Regions from separate parts of the Homo sapiens genome. Here region 1 is reported to be linked to region 2. The links are microRNA targets in miRTarBase. Many come from high-throughput screens and were not tested one by one. Region 2 holds a microRNA gene; the other region holds the end of a gene's coding sequence.
What was found. Region 2 holds the annotated microRNA hsa-miR-584-5p (UUAUGGUUUGCCUGGGACUGAG, at 1,823-1,844, shown strand). A microRNA usually pairs through its seed, bases 2 to 8, with sites in the 3' UTR of a target mRNA and lowers its output. Matches are read on the target gene's strand: a 7mer-m8 pairs with bases 2 to 8, a 7mer-A1 pairs with bases 2 to 7 and ends in A, and an 8mer does both.

Region 1: the mRNA of TMEM263 is a reported target of hsa-miR-584-5p. Seed matches in the 3' UTR shown: 7mer-m8 at 1,285-1,291.

What each region holds. Positions count from the first base shown.
Region 1 is chr12:106,970,551-106,974,605 of GRCh38, forward strand. TMEM263 (transmembrane protein 263) reads left to right here. Exons shown (of 4, transcript NM_152261.4): 4 at 555-3,485. The coding sequence ends at 841. Among named protein-coding and RNA genes, the nearest start is that of MTERF2, 15 kb to the right of the region's middle.
Region 2 is chr5:149,060,150-149,064,216 of GRCh38, reverse strand. It overlaps MIR584 (microRNA 584), which reads left to right and starts at 1,808; the gene lies at 1,808-1,904. It overlaps SH3TC2 (SH3 domain and tetratricopeptide repeats 2), which reads left to right and starts at 1,155. Exons shown (of 17, transcript NM_024577.4): 1 at 1,155-1,246. The coding sequence starts at 1,195. SH3TC2-DT (SH3TC2 divergent transcript) reads right to left here and starts at 900. Exons shown (of 3, transcript NR_122044.1): 1 at 543-900. RefSeq lists a silencer at 897-1,191.

The DNA.
Region 1 (4,055 bases), not on the chromosome of region 2:
AGACTCATGACAGAAAGTGAAAAGACAAATGATATTTTAATAATATTATGAAAATAGTTTTTACCTTGTAGACCCCCTGAAATGGTCTTCGGCATCTGTAGTGGTCCCAGACCATACCTTGAAAACTACTGCATTTTACGAAGAAGATTGTTTCGGTAATGACTGATTAAATCCTATCAAGGAAATGAAGGCCAAATGTAGTTATCTTTTTATTTTTTCATGTTCCTTTTAGGATGTAAAATAAAGGTTATTTGTTAACAAAACCGTAAACCAAGGAAACATTTAAAATAGGATTCTGTTTTACAAAAGTTGTCTAGTCTCTAAAGCATTTCTTCTCATAGATACTAAGACTTAGCATTGGACCAAGATATTGTAAAAACATGTACAACTATACCCTGAAGGAAGAGCTCTTCAGTGTCTTTGAATCAGTGTGGTTGGCCTTATCAAATCAACCTCCTGTTGTGAGGAAGTCTTAGGTTACTTAATGATGTGTACTGCTCTTTTAAAGACTTGTGACTTATATTTGATTGTCTCATGATATTTTCTCTCATTAGGTTCAATGAAAGATCACCCACAGCAGCAGCCAGGCATGTTGTCCCGTGTGACTGGGGGTATCTTCAGTGTTACAAAGGGAGCTGTTGGTGCCACCATTGGTGGTGTGGCTTGGATTGGTGGAAAGAGTCTGGAAGTGACCAAAACAGCTGTTACAACTGTGCCTTCCATGGGAATAGGGCTGGTGAAAGGGGGTGTCTCTGCTGTGGCTGGAGGTGTTACAGCTGTTGGGTCTGCTGTTGTAAACAAAGTGCCCTTAACAGGAAAGAAGAAAGACAAATCTGACTGAAATATAGAGATACACTTGCGCTCCACAGCACTGTAATGCCAGTGGCATTGAATTGCTAAATTATGGACTACAACCAAGTCAACTGTTTTGGACGTTTATCTTCTAAACTGCTGTGTTGAAAGTATTGATGACTGGCTTTCATCTAAAAAGAAGAGACCAATACGAGCACAGTATATGAAGGTTTCTCATACTTAAGTTCCAGGTTTTTATCTGGTAAAATGTTACACTTACTCGGTTGTAACTGAAGATATGGTATGTTTGAATATTTACTATAAGTCTTTCAGTTTGACTAAAAATGTGAAAGTTGAATTTAGTAGATGATCTTCACAGTTCCATATGTATAATGTGCCAGGTAACTCACCTGCCCCTTAAGAAGGGAACCTTGAATTACATAAGCCGTACCTTTGATGTGCCTAATAGTTTCAGATGTCTTAGTTTTTTATAACCATAGTTGATTAGGCCAAGAGGCATTCATTTCTTATTTAAGCTGGCAAAATTAGCAGGAATTAGAGAAGTTTAAAAAGATAAATGGTTTTATGATAATGTTAACCATCTTTTGTTAGTAAATATGCGTTCTATTATTTTAATCATTGATGCCTTACAAAAGAAAACATCTTTTCTAATACCCTGAATATGTGCTGTTCTTAGAATCATCTATGGATTCTTTTAAAGGTTGTTTGTGAAATTAGTTTTCCCTTTTTAGAATCTCAGGAGTAGTGGGGTAAAGACATTTCCTGCTGTCAGTGGATAAGACAGAGCTTGTTAACTGTTTTGGCAGTAGTTAAAATCAAATTGTACACTTCTCAGCCTGGGTTCATGCTTCATCATTAATACACCTCACAGTGCCTAAGGAACATTTACTTACTGGTCAGAAGGTATTTTGGAAGAGTTTCATATTAAGGAGGAACAAATAATAATTTTAAGTTCTTAAAAATTACCTAAAACACCCCAAATATAAAAAGAAGCCTTCACACCTATTCTGTCTTTAGGATGTCTTAAATTATTAGCAGTACTCCTTTTTTAAAAACACTGTAAAAGTAACCACAAATATGTGAGGACTTACTATTTTAAATGGAATGGAATGAGCTCCATAGATTAGTTTTGAATATAAAGTATATAAAAGTGCATCAGTGGTTTATATAGGCTTTAAAAACATGTTATCTTACAGTCCTTTAAAGCAGCCATAGAGTTTGTATCATTTTTCAAGCCAATTTCAGTCAGGGATTTGAATTGTTTGATTATGGATGATAAATGTGTCATATCTTATTAATATGTCTCATGTCTCGTTCCTTCTTAATATGATTTAGCTGGAATTCATTTTCTTTTCGTTTCATGTTTAATTTCATAAAACGTTTAACAATTGGCATATATACTTGGCATTCCTGTCCACCAAGGATTGTAATCCAAGCCTGGGAAAATCTTAAATTTCTTTTTACTTAAATCTGGAAATTTGTCTCCATTCTGCCACCTTTTTTTTTTTTTTTTTTTATAGTGGAGGGGAGGAAAGGGGGGTGATACCTTGCAGTAAGTAAGTCGAAATAGCATGCCTGAAAATTTGAAACAGACCATTCTAACACCCAAGGCTTGTTTATAAAATACTTGAGAATTACATTAATGTGGAATCAACAGATGCAGAAGAATATAACATAACTTTTAAAAGCTTTCATAAATACCAGCAGCAATTGTAAGCAAATCTACAAAGGTTCTTGAACCTTTCTATTATATACAAAACTGAAAAGTCATTAAGGAGTTCAACTAATCAGGAATTAAATGGTCATTTATTTCATGCAGTATGATTTAAGGTATTTCTTGAGATTCTGGTCAAATGTCATAATCAGCAAACGGGATTAAAAAAAAAACTCCAAAATCACTAAATAATTATCTAAATAATGGTATTGGAGAACTTGTTTCCTGCTATTTGGAAGAGATTGTTGCTTCATTGCTAGTTTGTATTTCTAACTTCTACAGTTATAGACTCCACTGTGCTTTGTGTCTGAATTTCTCAGTATAGACATTTTGTTTACTGTATGCTTGCATATTTATTTTCAACTTTGTTTGTCTTTAAAATTGCTTGAGGAAAAATGGTTGTAATTAATTTCTGCTACAGAAAAGCCACCTGGTACGTTTTGTCTCATCAGGATTGTTTTAAATTCTAAACTATAAGTTTGTTCAGAGGGGCTTTTGCAATGATAGCAGAAAACTGTACAAATGTACAGTTAGTTATAGAGGTTCTTGTTGAAATGAACTTACCATCTGATGATATGTATGTACAGCTGTGTACTTGAGTCTTTTTTAGTTTACTTAGAAAGACTAGCAGTTTGACCTGTTAAACAGGACTAGTTCAAGTCAAGAAACTAAGGTTGTTGTATACACCTGGAGGCATCTGTTATTCAGCTTATCCTTTGAGTGGGTATTTGGCACAATGAGGATAAACTTATGTGACCCACTTGAATGGCTGATCTAATAATGTTGACATTATGCATTCTGTACTTAGTGAAATGTCAGATGAAAATAACTGATGAATAATTTTTTTGTATTAAAGGGATGGGAAAAGAACACATGAATTTGTTAATAAAGCACTATGATCTGCAAACGATGGAATGTTTCATAAAGATCTAAAGAAATAAAGGAAACTTTAAAACAGGGTGATCTTACCATTTTTAGTTACTTTGCAGTTCAGAAAGTGCTGTAGCCAGTTTAAAATTTTTTTTATAGTAATGTACAAACATATCTTTGGATATGTATTTTGATGCTGACACAACCATGAAATACAAATATATTTTAAGCAACTCTAATAATAAAGATTAAGAGTGTAGATTTCTAGGTTTTACCCCAACTTGCCAAATCTCTGCAAGGTGGGGCCCAGGACTGCATTTTAACAACCTCTCTGGGTAATTCTTGAGTACAACAAGAGTACTTTCAAACAAAGTTTGAAAACTGATGGATTATAAAGCAGGGAGCACTTCTGTCTGTTCCAAGTAGCTGTGGAACCAACTGAGACATCTCACTGGAAAGAAATGACTGACTAAAAGGGGTGGGGAGGAGTGTAGAAAATTGATATTTACTGGGCATCTGCTTACCTGCCAGGTACTGGCCATACTTCTCATTTAATCAGCATGAGGGCCTTATGAAGGAAGTATCATTACTCTCTTACAAATACAGAACAGGCTAACTTTCAATGTTAGTTGAATTTTCCATATCACTTTTGAATTAG
Region 2 (4,067 bases):
TCTTTGAGCTTGGTTGTTAGAGCAGTCATGCTTCCGTCCTACCTTGCTGGCATTCAGCCATATTTTCTCCATCTCCTTTGCAAGATCTCATGGGAGGTTTTCTGAAATTTAGCCACAGTGTCAACTGGATTCCCCTGCTCCACTGCCTATCTGAAACAGGAAAGAGGTTAGTCTTGTGGGACCAGTTTTGCTTGCATACCTGTAGACTTGCTGTATTTTTTCTTTTAGTTTTATTTTTAATTGACACATAATAATTCTACACATTTATGGGCTAGAATGTGATGTTTCAATATATCTATGTATTGTGTAATGAACAAATCAAGGTAATTATCATATCCATCATCTCAAACATCATTGTTTTTTTGTGGTGAGAACATTCAAAATCCTCTCTTCTATGTTGAAATATACAATACGTTATTAACTGTAGTCCCCCTACTGTGCAATAGAACACTAGAACTTACTCCTCCTATGTAACTCTAACCTTTTACCTATTGACCAACCTCTCCCCATCCTTTGATGTATTTGGTTCTCCATCCCCTCACCTGTAAAATGCTGGGCTTCATCAGGTGATCTCCTGGATTCTTTTCCTGCACACCAGCAGCTGGGGGTTTGCATGTTCCCCAGTGAGGAGCTGGCTCATTGATGCTGCTAGGTCCAAGTGAAATGCTGCACCCACAGCTCCAACTTTATCAGAGAGCCAAGGGAGGCCTTTGCAGAGAGAGACTGGGTGGAGATCACTGTAAAGGGGTGGCAGGCCAGTCAGTGTGGGCCAAGTCAGTCGGGGAGGGAGCAAGAAGAGCAGTCTTGATCTCTGGGATGTTCTCTGCCCTCCTCCCCAGCCCTGGCTGCCCTCACAAGAACCAAACTGTGTATCTCAATCCTAGAATGCGAGGAATGTGCTGCAGGCTGATAGGCATGAAGCGATCTGCTGAGAGGCAGGGAGGAGCCCTGTTCCCCAGGCCTGACAGTGCAGGAGCTGTGGGCCTGCAGGCTGGGCTGGGCTGCCCCTCCCACCCTCCCTGGGCCTCCTGCTGTAGCCGGGATATCAAAGGCTGCATTGTGCATTGAGCAGGCCTCGGTCCCTCGTGTGCCAGGGAGGAGGCGGGAGGAGGGACACCGTTGGGAGGCTGTCCCTTGCAGCACTCTTCTGGCCTGTGTTCCCAAGGGCCTCGGCCAGGGTAGGATGGTACACACATGGGTGGCTGCTTCTGCATCCCCAGGGAGCGGAGTCTGACCCGGGGCCCAGGTGAGTTTCCCAGGGGGCCCTTGGCCTGTGGCTTGGCCAAAGTGGATGGTCCAGTAGAGGCTCAGGGACCTGCTGGGTTGGAGAAACTTTTCTCCCAAAGATGGGGAGATGATTGTGCTTTCTGGCTGCCTCTCCTTCCTCCCTGGGTAAGTGTTTGTCATGCTGGCTCTGTAAAAAGGGAGCAAAGCCTGGAAGCATCTATTTTTTCCTGAAGAAAGAGCCTTTGAGTTTACTCTGTCAGGAGCTGAGCAGCACTGCTCCTGGCTGCCACTCCCAGGGTGTGACTAAGCCCTTCCTTCCTTTCTTCCCGAGATCCCCCCAGGACAGGAAGAAAGTTCAGGCAGTGAGTTCCTCTGTGGCCTATGGGTGGCCATAAACTTGGCCTTAGTCATTCAAGCCTATTTTTGTCAGGGTTGCTGTTACTGGAGAAAAACAGGCAGTTTCCTGCCTCCACCTATTACAGAGTGATTTGTGTGTGAGTGCATGTGTGAGTGTGTGCATCAAGTTGAGGCAATGGAGAGTTGTTGCTCTAAGAAATTGTCAACTCATGGGAGAGTGACTTAGGGTGACCAGCCATTATGGTTTGCCTGGGACTGAGGAATTTGCTGGGATATGTCAGTTCCAGGCCAACCAGGCTGGTTGGTCTCCCTGAAGCAACCTTCTTGCTTTTTTTCAGAGGAGAATCAAGGTAGGGCCCTGTGTTCTCTTGTGTGGTGTTTATCAGGATGAGTGGTGGCTTTGGGGAAATGTGGGGTTAGATTGGTGGGGGGAGGCTTGCTTGGGAGATAGGGGAACATTGCTCCAAGGAATCATTCCTAACCCTTGTTAGAACTCTGTGTCTTCCTGGAGCTCCACCATGGTTCCTGAGAGAAGGAGCTAAGGAGCATCCCCTAGCTGAGGGCTTTCTACTCTCTGACAGACAACTTTCTTCTTTAGTCTTATGACTTGGGCTTGTAGAAGGCACTTGAGGTCATTAAAGTGAACCCAAAACAACCATATTCTGCTTCCTCTGCTTGAAGTCTTGATCTAGGCACCTTGGCACCTACAGCAGGGAGTGTCCCCCCAAATGATGCCCTTGGCACAAAAGGCACGACTTTAGCTATGAACAATTTCGCTTCTCCAGATTTCTCAGATGTAAACACTTTTCAGTCCCTCCCCCTAAGTCCTATTGTCATTGTGCCCCATGAGAGTAGAAACAGCATGGAGGGAGACGTGCAGGACCACTGGTCGGAGATCGGGGTTCTAGATCTGACTTCCTCTAGCTCTAGTTATGCAGTTGTCATCTTGGCTACTCACTTGGTCTTTGAGGCCAAAGTGTCTGGATTTTATCTTGGTTCTTTTACTTGCCTCGACAACTTATTTAACTTCTCTGTGTTTCAGTTTCCTTATCTGTAGCTTTTATGACATGATTATGTCTTCTTCATAGAGCTGTGGTGGAGATTAAGTCTACATGTGAAATGGTGAAACAGTCTGGTGCACAGTTAGTTGAGCACAATAAAATTCACCATTGTTAATTCCATTTTGATGACCCCAGTATAACTCGCGCTCTCCCTGGGCCTCCATTTAATCATATATACAATTTTAGGGTTGTAAACTGCTGTGTAGAGGTGCCTCAGAGAGCTCTGCTCATGTTCCCTCATTCCTACCTAGAGCGGCTCTGCTTCTAGTTGACATCGTCCTTCAGCCAAAGATTTCCTGTAGAACAGAGTTACGCAGCTGAAAACAAACAAACAAACAAACAAAATATTGAAAAAGGTCAAAATCATAATAACACTATCATTCAATTACTTTATTCTTTCACCTTCTTTTTGCCATTGATTACTGGCTGGCACCCCGCATTCACCTTTTCACCAAGAGTTAGCCTGCTATGTATCTCCCTCGAGACTTTTCATGCCATTCCCCCATATTATTCCCTGTATGTGTCAGGGCCTTTCCCTAGCGAGGTTGATATTGGTGTTGTAGGTCCAAGTCCAGTCGATCTGGATATTCCCATTCCAGATTCCCCTATTTATCCTAGAGAAAAGGAACAAAGTATGAGACCCATCCTGGAGCAACTTAATAGTTGTGTGACCTTGGGCAAGTCCCTCATGTTTTTTGAACCTCAGTTTTCCTGGCTGTAAACTGTATCTAATGGTGGTACTTATCCCATGGAACTTTTGTGAGGATTAAATTTAATAATTCCTCTCATGGACTTAGCACAAGGTCTGGCTTTTGATAACCCTTCAGTAACTACAGGCTGTTTTATCGTTAGTTAATATGGGCCACTCCTACATCACTTCCTCCTAATTCCTTACTGGTCTGGAGAAGTCTGTACTTATGTTTCCTGGGGTGCTTCTGCCTTGTGTCTGTTTAAGTGAGAGTTAACAGCAGACACCAAAACAGTGAGTCCTCAGGGCTAATGGACACAGGAAAGGAGAAGGCTCTTGATAGCACTGAGCACTGGACAGCTGCCAGACTAGTTTGTGTGGAGTGACACAATAATGAACGTTGACTCTGACTACTCCAGGCACCTGCATTCTTACATGTGGACTCTGCCTGCAGCATCTGTTCCCTGGGATGGCTCTCAACTGCTCACAGAACTCCCCTAATCAGGGGGGACTGCACATGGTGAGAGGATAGGTTCTGATCAGTTGCTATCATCTCTGACTTCCCCACCCTATCTATGAGTTGTTTCTTGCCATTGCTTAATAAGCTACAGTTGCTCACTTTGGATCACAGAGAAAGCCATGTCAAAGTTTGTTGATCAAAAAACTTCTAGCACTTCACCCTTATTTTCAATGCCTGTTTGAAGAAATTTGGCAGATTTATGCCCTTAAATAGA